Linked DNA regions of Homo sapiens. The protein of the gene in region 1 purifies or fractionates together with the protein of each later gene. This does not show direct contact. Each region holds a gene or a part of one and is shown on either strand. Other genes may lie near its edges.

Evidence for each region. Proteins that work in one complex are often made in the same cells at the same time.
Region 2: the proteins of TIMP2 (region 1) and NSUN6 fractionate together in Homo sapiens (co-fractionation; one large-scale study listed by BioGRID). This does not show direct contact.

Annotation. Positions count from the first base shown.
Region 1 is NC_000017.11:78,854,825-78,860,178, forward strand, and holds part of TIMP2 (metalloproteinase inhibitor 2 precursor), read right to left. Parts: intron 2,823-5,354; coding exon 2,698-2,822; intron 1,041-2,697; coding exon 843-1,040; 3' UTR 1-842. UniProt on the Homo sapiens protein: Complexes with metalloproteinases (such as collagenases) and irreversibly inactivates them by binding to their catalytic zinc cofactor. Known to act on MMP-1, MMP-2, MMP-3, MMP-7, MMP-8, MMP-9, MMP-10, MMP-13, MMP-14, MMP-15, MMP-16 and MMP-19.
Region 2 is NC_000010.11:18,613,303-18,618,235, forward strand, and holds part of NSUN6 (tRNA (cytosine(72)-C(5))-methyltransferase NSUN6), read right to left. Parts: intron 2,992-4,933; coding exon 2,882-2,991; intron 1,312-2,881; coding exon 1,158-1,311; coding exon of another isoform or gene 1,146-1,157; intron 1-1,145. UniProt on the Homo sapiens protein: S-adenosyl-L-methionine-dependent methyltransferase that specifically methylates the C5 position of cytosine 72 in tRNA(Thr)(TGT) and tRNA(Cys)(GCA). In vitro also methylates tRNA(Thr)(AGT).

The DNA.
Region 1 (5,354 bases):
GCTAGGGAAGGGACCTTGAGGGCAGCCACCGGCCCCGGACAGCAGCCTCAGGACAGGACCTCACCGATTCCTCCTGCAAGCTGGGGAGCATGTGGGCGGGGGGGGGGGGGTGGGGGGGTGGGTGCAGACCAAAAAGACTCAGCTGAGGCTGGAACGCAGCTCAGCTGGGGTTTCTCGCTCCCATTTCTACAAGGCTCAGAGGGAGGCTCCCACTGGAATTCTGAGGATTAATAGGATTGATGGGGCTCCTTCAAGAACTAGCCACTGGTTCCAGGCTGCCCTTGGATGTGGGGGGAGTCAGGTGCTGGGAGCTCATGGTGGGCACCGGGGCGATGGGAGCACTTGCCAGGGGCAGGGAGTGCAGAGGCGTGGAAGCTGCAGAAAACAAGGGCCATGTCCCTCTCAAGATGAAAGGGACCTGGTAGGCCTGCTACACAGTCTTGCAACGACCCTCAAAAGTTTCTGCAAAATGCACATTTCCAGGCCCTGCCCTAACCCAGCTGGGAGATCCCTAAGTGCTGCCTGCTTGGCATCTGTGACGGTGCCAAGGCAGGGACTGGGAGGGAAGCCGCGTGTCCCAGCCCTGCCTGCACCCAAGGATCGAAGCCCCAGACACATAGTGCCTGGCAGAGGGAGGATGGGATGAGGACCTTGGACCCACGTCTCCCTCCAGACCCACAACCATGTCTAAAAGGAGAAGGGGGGAGCAGAATCATATTAATTTGGACCCATGGGATGAGTGTTTTATTCATGCTGTTTCCAGGAAGGGATGTCAGAGCTGGACCAGTCGAAACCCTTGGAGGCTTTTTTTGCAGTTGGCCACAGGGGCGTTGGAGGCCTGCTTATGGGTCCTCGATGTCGAGAAACTCCTGCTTGGGGGGCGCCGCGCCGCGGTACCACGCACAGGAGCCGTCACTTCTCTTGATGCAGGCGAAGAACTTGGCCTGGTGCCCGTTGATGTTCTTCTCTGTGACCCAGTCCATCCAGAGGCACTCGTCCGGGGAGGAGATGTAGCACGGGATCATGGGGCAGCGCGTGATCTGGGGAGGGGCACACGGAGGGGGACGGAGTCAGGGACCCAGGAAGGGGTGGGCAGAGGCTGCTCTGGGGGCATGTCCAGAACCCGGCAATGTGCCTACCTGTCATGTGCAGGGATGGCAGCCTCTCCCGAGACCCACGGTTCCTGCAGGGGCAGGCAGCTGGCCTGCGAGGGGGTCTAACCTGCAGGGAAGCTGTGCCCTGCCCACCGCTGCCCCCCCTCCTACTGCAGGTGTGCTTCCCTTTGGGCCATCTTCTACCTTCCTGAGCATGACAGAATGGCCTCAGCTTGGCCCTGCCCTCTGGGGGACACAGCAACAATAAAAGGGCCTGGGTTTCCTGGAGACAGATTCCAGCCCAGTGTTGCTCGCAAGCCGAGCCCCGAGGTCATCGGCAACTAGCAATTTGGCCAAGGAACCCTAGGCTACAAGAGGATGACCGCCTTCACCACCGTGGAAAGAAAAAGGAAAAACTTGCTTTTGATTTCATGCTGGGCACAGAGGAGTTTCGCTTAACATACGTGTGGCTGGAGACTATGAGTTCAGAATTCCTGTTTTGAACATGCGGAGAAGGGGCTGGGGGCCGTCAGGAGGGAGGGCAGCCCCAGGCAGCTCCCCAGGGAAGGCCAATCCCCACAGCCTCACCAGAGTCTCCTGGTCCCAGACTCACTGGGAGTGACCCAGGGTGGGAGGTGCCCAGCACTCAGCCATGCTTCCTGCAGGGAGGGTGGGGATAGGGTGCTAGGAGCCCACAGGGTAGGAGCCAGCCTGGGAGCCCTGGAGGCGGTAATCTCACCTTCCACAGCCACATCTAGGCGCTGCACTGCTCCAGCTGTGCCTGGCACAACCTCCGGGCTCATTTTAAGAGGAGCAGGTGTTCAGGTATTCTCAACACACAGACCCCACATAGACACCAACCCAGGTGTGAAAATGTCGGGAATGTTGGAAACAGCGTAAGGCCTGCAGTGCCTTCTCATAAGCCACACAGGCGTTTGCACTTGCACATTTGTAGAAAATTCTCCATGGGACCATATTCTCTCTCCCCATACAGCTCCTTTTTCTGGAAGCTACAGGTAACAGAGCTGAATTCATGCTCTTACTCTCAAATCTCCTAGCCTTCCAGACATCTCCCTCTTTTTTTTTTGGGACAGAGTCTCACTCTGTCAACCCAGGCTGGGGTGCAGTGGTGTGATCTCAACTCACTGCAACCTCCACCTCCCACATTCAAGCAATTCTTAAGCCTCATCCTCCCAAGTTGCTGGGATCACAGGCGTGCACCACCTCACCTGGCTAATTTTTGTATTTTTGTAGAGACAGGGTTTCGCCATGTTGGTGAGGCTGATTTCCAACTCCCGACCTCAAGTGACCCACCTATCTCGGCCTCCCAAAGTGCCGGGATTACAGGCGTGAGCCGCAGCGCCCGGCCTCCAGACATCCCCTGTCAGAGATGTGCCTCAGGGCTCTCCAGGGACCAGGGGTCAAAGGCTCTGTCCCCAGCCAGACAGCCTTACTCTTGGGATGACTCTACCTTCCCAGAGCCTGGTCTTAGATCAGGAGCCGGGGATTAACGGGTCCTGGAAAGCCAGGGATCAAAATCCCTGCCGTCCATCTGGAGACACTGGGAGGAGGCGATGCTCCAGCAGAGGCAGGACCTGCTTACCTTGCACTCGCAGCCCATCTGGTACCTGTGGTTCAGGCTCTTCTTCTGGGTGGTGCTCAGGGTGTCCCAGGGCACGATGAAGTCACAGAGGGTGATGTGCATCTTGCCGTCCCCCTCGGCCTTTCCTGCGGAGAGACGGGGATCACCGAGCTCAGGGAGAGGGAAAAGTCCTCCTCCTGCCCAGCTCCTCCACCCGGCGCAGGGGCGCTGGGATTTCGTTGCAACAATCCTGTGCACTGTCTATTCTGAGTTAAAACACAGTGGGTGGCCAGGCACGGTGGCTCACTCCTGTAATCCCAGCACTTTGGGAGGCTGAGGCGGGTGGATCTCTTGAGGCCAGGAGTTCAAGACCAGCCTGGCCAACGTGATGAAACCCCCTCTCTACTAAAATACAAAAAATTAGCCGGGTGTGGTGTCACACGCCTGTAATCCCAGCTACTTGGGAGGCTGAGGCAGGAGAATCGCTCTTGCACCCCAGAGGCGGAAGTTGCAGTGAGCCGAGATCGCGCCACTGAACTCCAGCCTGGGTGACACAGCAAGACTCCGTCTCAAAAAAATAAAAAGTGGAAAAAAAAAGAAAGCCATAATGCATGTTCACTGACAGAAACTTAAACATTGGAAACAAAGAAAAAACTTCCTGGCCAGGGGCGGTGGCTCATGCCTGTAATCCCAGCACTTTGGGAGGCCGCGGCAGGTGGATCACAAGGTCAGGAGATCGAGACCATCCTGGCTAACACGGTGAAACCCCCGTCTCTACTAAAAATACAAAAAATTAGCCAGGCGTGCTGGCGGGCACCTGTAGTCCCAGCTACTCAGGAGGCTGAGGTAGGAGAATGGCGTGAACCCGGGAGGCGGAGGTTGCAGTGAGCCGAGTTGGTGCCACTGCACTCCAGCCTGGGCCTGGGCGACAGAGCGAGACTCAGTCTAAAAAAAAAAAAGAAAAGAAAAAAATTCCCTACTTTCATTACCCACAGCTAATATTTTGATGTATTTCCTTCCAATATTCCACTATTGATTTTGAGACAGTCTTGCTCTGTCGCTCAGGCCAGAGTGCAATGGTATGATCATAGCTCACTGCAGCCTTGACCTCCCAAGCTCAAGCGATCCTCCCGTCTCAGTCTCCTGAATAGCTGGGACTATAGGTGTGAACCACTACACCCTGCTAATTTTTTATATTTTTTTTTGTAGAAACAGGGTCTTGCTATGTTACTCAGGCTGGTCTTAAACTTCTGCGCTCAAGCAATACCCCCACTTTGGCCTCCCAAAGTGTTAGGATTATAGGCATGAGCCACCACGCCTGGCCCCAATATTCTTTTAAATTAAATTTTATTCTAAAAAAAGGATAGAGACGATGTTTCACCATGTTGCCCAGGCTGGTCTTGAACTGAGCTTAAGTGATCCTCCCACCTTGACTTCCCAAAGTGCTGGGATTACAGGTGTGAGCCACTGCGCCCGGCCAATATTCTCTTCTATGTGCATCTTCACACATAAAACGTCATGCAGTATGTAGATTATATTGTTTCCTGTTTTGTTTTTCACAAAATATTAATTCACAGGTGCTTCTCCCATTTGAGTTTAAACTTATAATTCTGCATTTTTCCATTATGAAGAGCCAAAGCATGGAATTTTTGAAAATTAGGAATCTGCTCTGAATTCCCTTCATCAGGCATGATGAGCTGTGGCTTCTTTCTGTACTTCCGGCTCCTGACTCAGCTGCCTCCTTCCTTTGCTGAAGATACTACATTGGCAATAGCCTTGGCGTTTTACAAGCAGGAGGAAAAGAACAAAGCAGTGTGTTCCAGTGGCTGACAGAACCTAATGACAGCTATGGAAGTCATTTAAAAACTCATCCCTCAGGCCAGGTGCGATGGCTCATGCCTGTAATCCTAGCACTTTGGGAGGCTGAGGTGGGCGGATCACTTGAGGTCAGGAGTTCGAGACCAGCCTGGCCAACATGGCGAAACCCCGTCTCTACTAAAAATACAAAAAGAAATAGCCAGGCGTGGTGATGCATGCCTGTAATCCCAGCTACTCAGGAGACTGAGGCAGGAGGATCGCTTGAACCCGGGAGGTGGAGGTTGCAGTGAGCCGAGATTGCAAACTGCACTCCAGCCTGGGCGACAGAGACAGACTCCATCTCAAAAAAGAAAATAAATAAAAAATAAATAAAATAAAAACTAATCTTTCAGGCAGGGCATGGTGGCTCATGGCTGTAATCCCAGTACTTTGGGAGGCTGAGGTAGGGACATCACTCGAGGTCAGGCATTTGCGACTAGTCTGGCCAACATGGTGAAACCCCGTCTCTACTACACATACAAAAATTAGCTGGGCATGGTCGTGGGTACCTGTAATCCCAGCTACTCGGGAGGCTGAGGCAGGAGAATCGCTTGAACCCAGTGGGCAGAGGTTACAGCGAGAAGAGGTCATGCCACTACATTCCAGCCTCAGTGACAAGAGCAAAACTCCATCTCAAATAAATACATAAAATAAAAAAAATACAAAAAATTAGCCGGGTGTGGTGGCGGGTGCCTGTAGTCCCAGCTACTCAGGAGGCTGAGGCAGGAGAATCACTTGAACCCAGGAGGTGGAGGTTGCAGTGAGTCAAGATCAAGCCACTGCACTCCAGCCTGGGTGACAGAGTAAGACTCTGTCTTCAA
Region 2 (4,933 bases), on another chromosome or scaffold:
GCCAGGCTGGTCTCGAACTCCTGACCTCAAGTGATCCGCCCACCTTGGCCTCTCAAAGTGCTGGAATTACAGGAGTGAGCCACCACGCCCGGCCAAAGGGTGGCTGAAAGTTGGTTGCCTCCTAACTTCCACCAACAAAAAATTATTCAGAACATTGTTCAGAAAACATTATTCAGCACGATAACTGGAACAACATCAAATAACCTAAAAGAATGAAAAGTATACCATTAACAATGAACTAATGGAGGCAGTCAAAATATCAATTACCAATTACAGGTCCAAAGATAAACACAGCAGATATATGCACATAATCTTTATATTCATGAAGCCTTCTAAAAAGAATAAAATCTTTGTTCTTGGCCATTTGGAAAGTGCTGCTACCTAGATCTAGGGAATCCAACAGTCAACTTCTTCAGAAGAACGAATGAATTTCAATTACAAACCCAAACTGTTGCAACATGAAAAACTGTTCCACCAATTAGGGATATCGTCCAATTCTAAAGGGAGAAATTCACAGCTTTCAGCATGTCTATGTCAGCCATGAACTTTGGAGTAATGGAGCTGTCCACAGAACTCAAAAAGCCTGAAAAAACTAAGTAAAATAAGAGCCTGGATTTTTCCACCAATTTATTTAGGGCCACTAGCAACCAGGAATGATTTAGAACAGACTATATTTTAATTTAGTTTGAACAAACCTAAACATTCATTTTTAAACACAAATATTCATGTGAGTGCTAGGTTTCTGGTAAAATTTATTTTTAATTAAAAAATATGTTTAATTTATATTAAAATCAAACTTTTTCTGACAAATAAGAACGTTAAAAATGATCTGGATAGATCATCTAATTCTTTCTCCATCATAATGCACTGTTTTTCAAAGATGCAAAATATTTTGAAAAAAATAAAATTCAGAAGGACAAGTAAAATTATTTGACAATTAAAATGTAACTGGTTGCTTAATGAGGCTCTTTAATTTGATCAGTTACCCTTTTTGACCAAACATCATGGAAATATGGGTTTAAACAATTTTTTTCCAGTTGGATTTATACCAAAAAAAAAAATTTCATATAATGCAACTAGATACATTTTACATTATTTTTAATTTTCATTGACCCACAAAAAGGATGCTGATTTCCCCAAAGCACCTGATGACATACTTCAGTTCAGGTAATCCACTGAAGATTTCTTTGCGGCTTAGTTCAGAAATCCCATTTCCAAGAAATACTTTTGTTCCATCAAATTCTTTGGCTCCTTTCTTACATTTTCCTTTAATATCAGAGTATACAGAAATAACATCTCCAGCTTTCATAACTAGAGAAAGAAGAAAATCAGATTACACTGATTTATACTTTGGCAGAAGAATCGTGAAAATTATTTGAGCTAGATCGGTGATCTCTAGAGGCATCAATAGTGGGCATGAAGCAGTTCAAACTTGCTCATTACCTCAATCTTTAATAGAAAATCTGACTTTTTACTTTAAAATATTCCATAACAATAAAACTCACTAAAGAATCTTTTTCAGTGAAAACAAAGAAATAAAATAGCTTCAAAACATCCTACCCTCAACTGGAAATCTCAAGCTGAGCCAAATTATTTCCCCCAAGCCTTAAAAGATTTCTTATAAATCTTGACATCTCAGCTCAAACCTCAAAGTTCTAAGTTTCCTTCAAAAGGACTGTTCAAAAATGTACCCTAAAATCCTTCAAAGAAATATTTCTAAATCCCATAACCCTGTTTGTATTTGCTATTTTGATATGACAGCACGATTAAGGCAGACTTTAATGATAAGCATATATAGTCATTCATATATATATATATATATATATACACACACATATAGGCACACATATATACGTGTGTGTATACACTTAGAATACCTTTTACAGTATACAGTGTACAGAGTTGCTTTATATGGCTGATTAAATCCAGTTTGTGTAGGCATTTATTTTCTGTAACAACTCTCAGTGTTATTTATAATTGGAAATTATATTCCACTTCCAAAAAACATTTTTAAACCTAATCTATCATAAATTTATTTGGTCTATTACCTGACAACAATAGCGAACAGCCTATTAGCTAGAGCTAAGAGAACTGTTAAAATCATGTAGATCAGATGTCAACACACTTTTCCTGTAAAGGGCAAATAAATATTTTAGGCTTTGTAGCCACATAAGTTCTCTGTGGCATATTCTTCTTTATATGTGTATCTTTTCACAACATTTTAAAAAGGAAAAAACCATTCTTAGCTTATGGGCCACACATAAACAGACATGAGCCAGACTTGGCCAGGAGGTAGTAGTTGACCCAATTCTGATACAGATCAAATTATTCATTTCAAGGACACCATAACTGAGGCCCAGAGACGGAATACGTTTTCTACAGATGAAAGCAATTGTTTCTTGATTTCAAGTCCAATAAGGTACCACTGAACCACAGTGACTAACTTACTAAGCATATGCAACACAGGTATGTCGCCAACTGGGTGAATACATTAAGAGTATCAAGTTTCATCCCAATGTTCAGAGTCCAGGTTCTGGATGTTCTCTCACTAATGACACAACAGCTTTCTGAGGTTTTAAGGCAATGCAGTCAAGAAAACAAAACAGAAGTTCATTGACGTACTCTATCAGTAATGATCCACTAAAACAACCATCATCAAATACATCCTTATTTGGAAGGAAAAAAAAAAAACCATCAGAAAACCTTATATGATGACTAGTTTGTTAGTCCTTACTGGATAAAACCCTAAATGCAAAGCTGGAAAAATACCCGACCAAGAAAAATTTGGAATATATCTTAGTGACAAATCAATAAATTTTCCATTTGAAAATGCACATAAATTTTAGAGAACCTTAAAGACAAATCTAAACATTATACTTACATTGTGATGCTGACACAATTCCTGGGGCATAGACATGGGCTCCTCTTAAAACTGCATTGCCACACTGGGCTCCAACAATGGCTTCACACTGTTGTTTTTTAATATTCTTTCTAGAAATGTAAGACACAAGAAGTTTAATAGTAACATACCTCCAATGCCTACCAATTTTTCCCGTGTTCTATCTGAACTCTAATGCCTCTTTAGTCTTAACTGTCCTGAATACATAAGAAAACGCTGAAAAGAGAGGCATACATATAGAGGAAACAGGAAAAAACAGCAACACGAAGATGGGCACTTGAGAGGAAGAAAAAAATCAAGAGGTCCATCTGCTGGAAGGCAATAAAGTGGCACCAGAAATTGCTTAATCATTTAACAAGCATTACTGTTTATCATAGCATTAGGAGAAAAATAGACTTTCTCTGTCTTCAAAGACTAAAATAGAAAAATACACAAGGAATTACAAAAACATTTCTAAAGTGGTAAATTGTTGCATGGTAAATTATGAATAATTTAAACAAGACAGGAAAAGAAGATAAGTCTTTTTTCCTTCCTTTGCTGCCCAACCTTTTTGAGTCTTTTCCAGTTTCTCACATTCATTTCTTAGACCACTAAAATCTGTATTACTTCTAACACTCAGGGTTCCAAAGATCAGGGACCCAATGTGATCAGCCCTAAATAAAAACCCTTAACAATGAGTCTCTAATAAGCTTCCTTGGATGTGCTGTCACAACTCACTGCTGGGGGAATTAGGTGCATCCTGTCTTCAATTCCATGATCGCCAATTCATCAAATCTTACTAATTTTTCAGCTTTATACCCACTCTTTCCTGGTCCCAAACATTCTCATTGCTCATTCTCTGCCTACTTCTTAGAGGCTCTCCCCGCCAGGTTCCAAAACATGCGACCATCTCTACTCACCTTGCATTCTATCCCTTGGCAATCTCATGATTTCAATAATCACTCACAAAAACAATCCACAAATTCTAATGTTTAGCCTTTCTAGTTTTTTTTTTTTTTTTTTTTGAGACCAAGTCTTTCTCTGTCACCCAAGCTGGAGTGCAGTGACGCAATCTTGGCTCACTGCAACCTCTGCCATCTGGGTTAAAGTGATTCTCATGCCTCAGCCTCCTGAGTAACTGGGATTACAGGTGCTCGCCACCACACCTGGCTAACTTGTGTATTTTTAGTAGTGACAGGGTTTCACCATGTTGGCCAGGTGGGTCTCGAACTCCTGACCTCAGGTGATCCACCAGCCTCAGCCTCCCAAAGTACTGGGATTATAGGCATGAGCCACCACGCCCAGCTTAGACTCTTAATTAGTATTTCTAATTACCTACGGACAGCTATATAGAGACGTCTCACAGTTACTTCAAACTCAACAAGTCCTAAACAATAATCAGTTTTCCCTCATCCATTCCTCCACTCCTTGGCAGGATCCCAAATCTTTTCATCCTGTTTCCAATCTTGAATGAGACGTCATTATCTGCCCAGATAACCAAACTAGATGCCTCAGTGTTACGGTCTGGATGTGTCCCCCAATATTCATGTGCTGGCAACTTAATCCCTAGTGCAACAGTGTTGGAATATGAGGCCTATTGGGAGCTGTTCAGGTCATGAGTGCTCTGCCCTCATGAATGAATTAATGCTATAATAAAAAGGGCTTGCAGCAGTGAGTTTGCTTTCTCTTGCCCTTGTGCCCTCTACCATGTACAGATGCAGCAAGAAAGCCCTCACCAGATGCAAATGCCTCGATCTTGGACTTCGTATCCTCCAACACTACAAAAAACAAATTTATGTTCTTTATAAATTATCCAGTCTCAGGTATTCTGCTATAGCAGCAAAAAATAAACTAAGACACTCAGCGTCATCTTAAAGTCCTCCTAAGCCTTCACATTGATTGATTTAGGAATCAAGCTATCTTCTAGTTCTGATAGGTTTTGTGGGCGTATCTCCTGATGTTGGACACATATCTCTTTGTGATTACTGAAATAGCTTCCTGCCTTTTACCACTGGTTTCAGATTTTCTCTGTCTTTGGTGTTCTGCAACTTCACT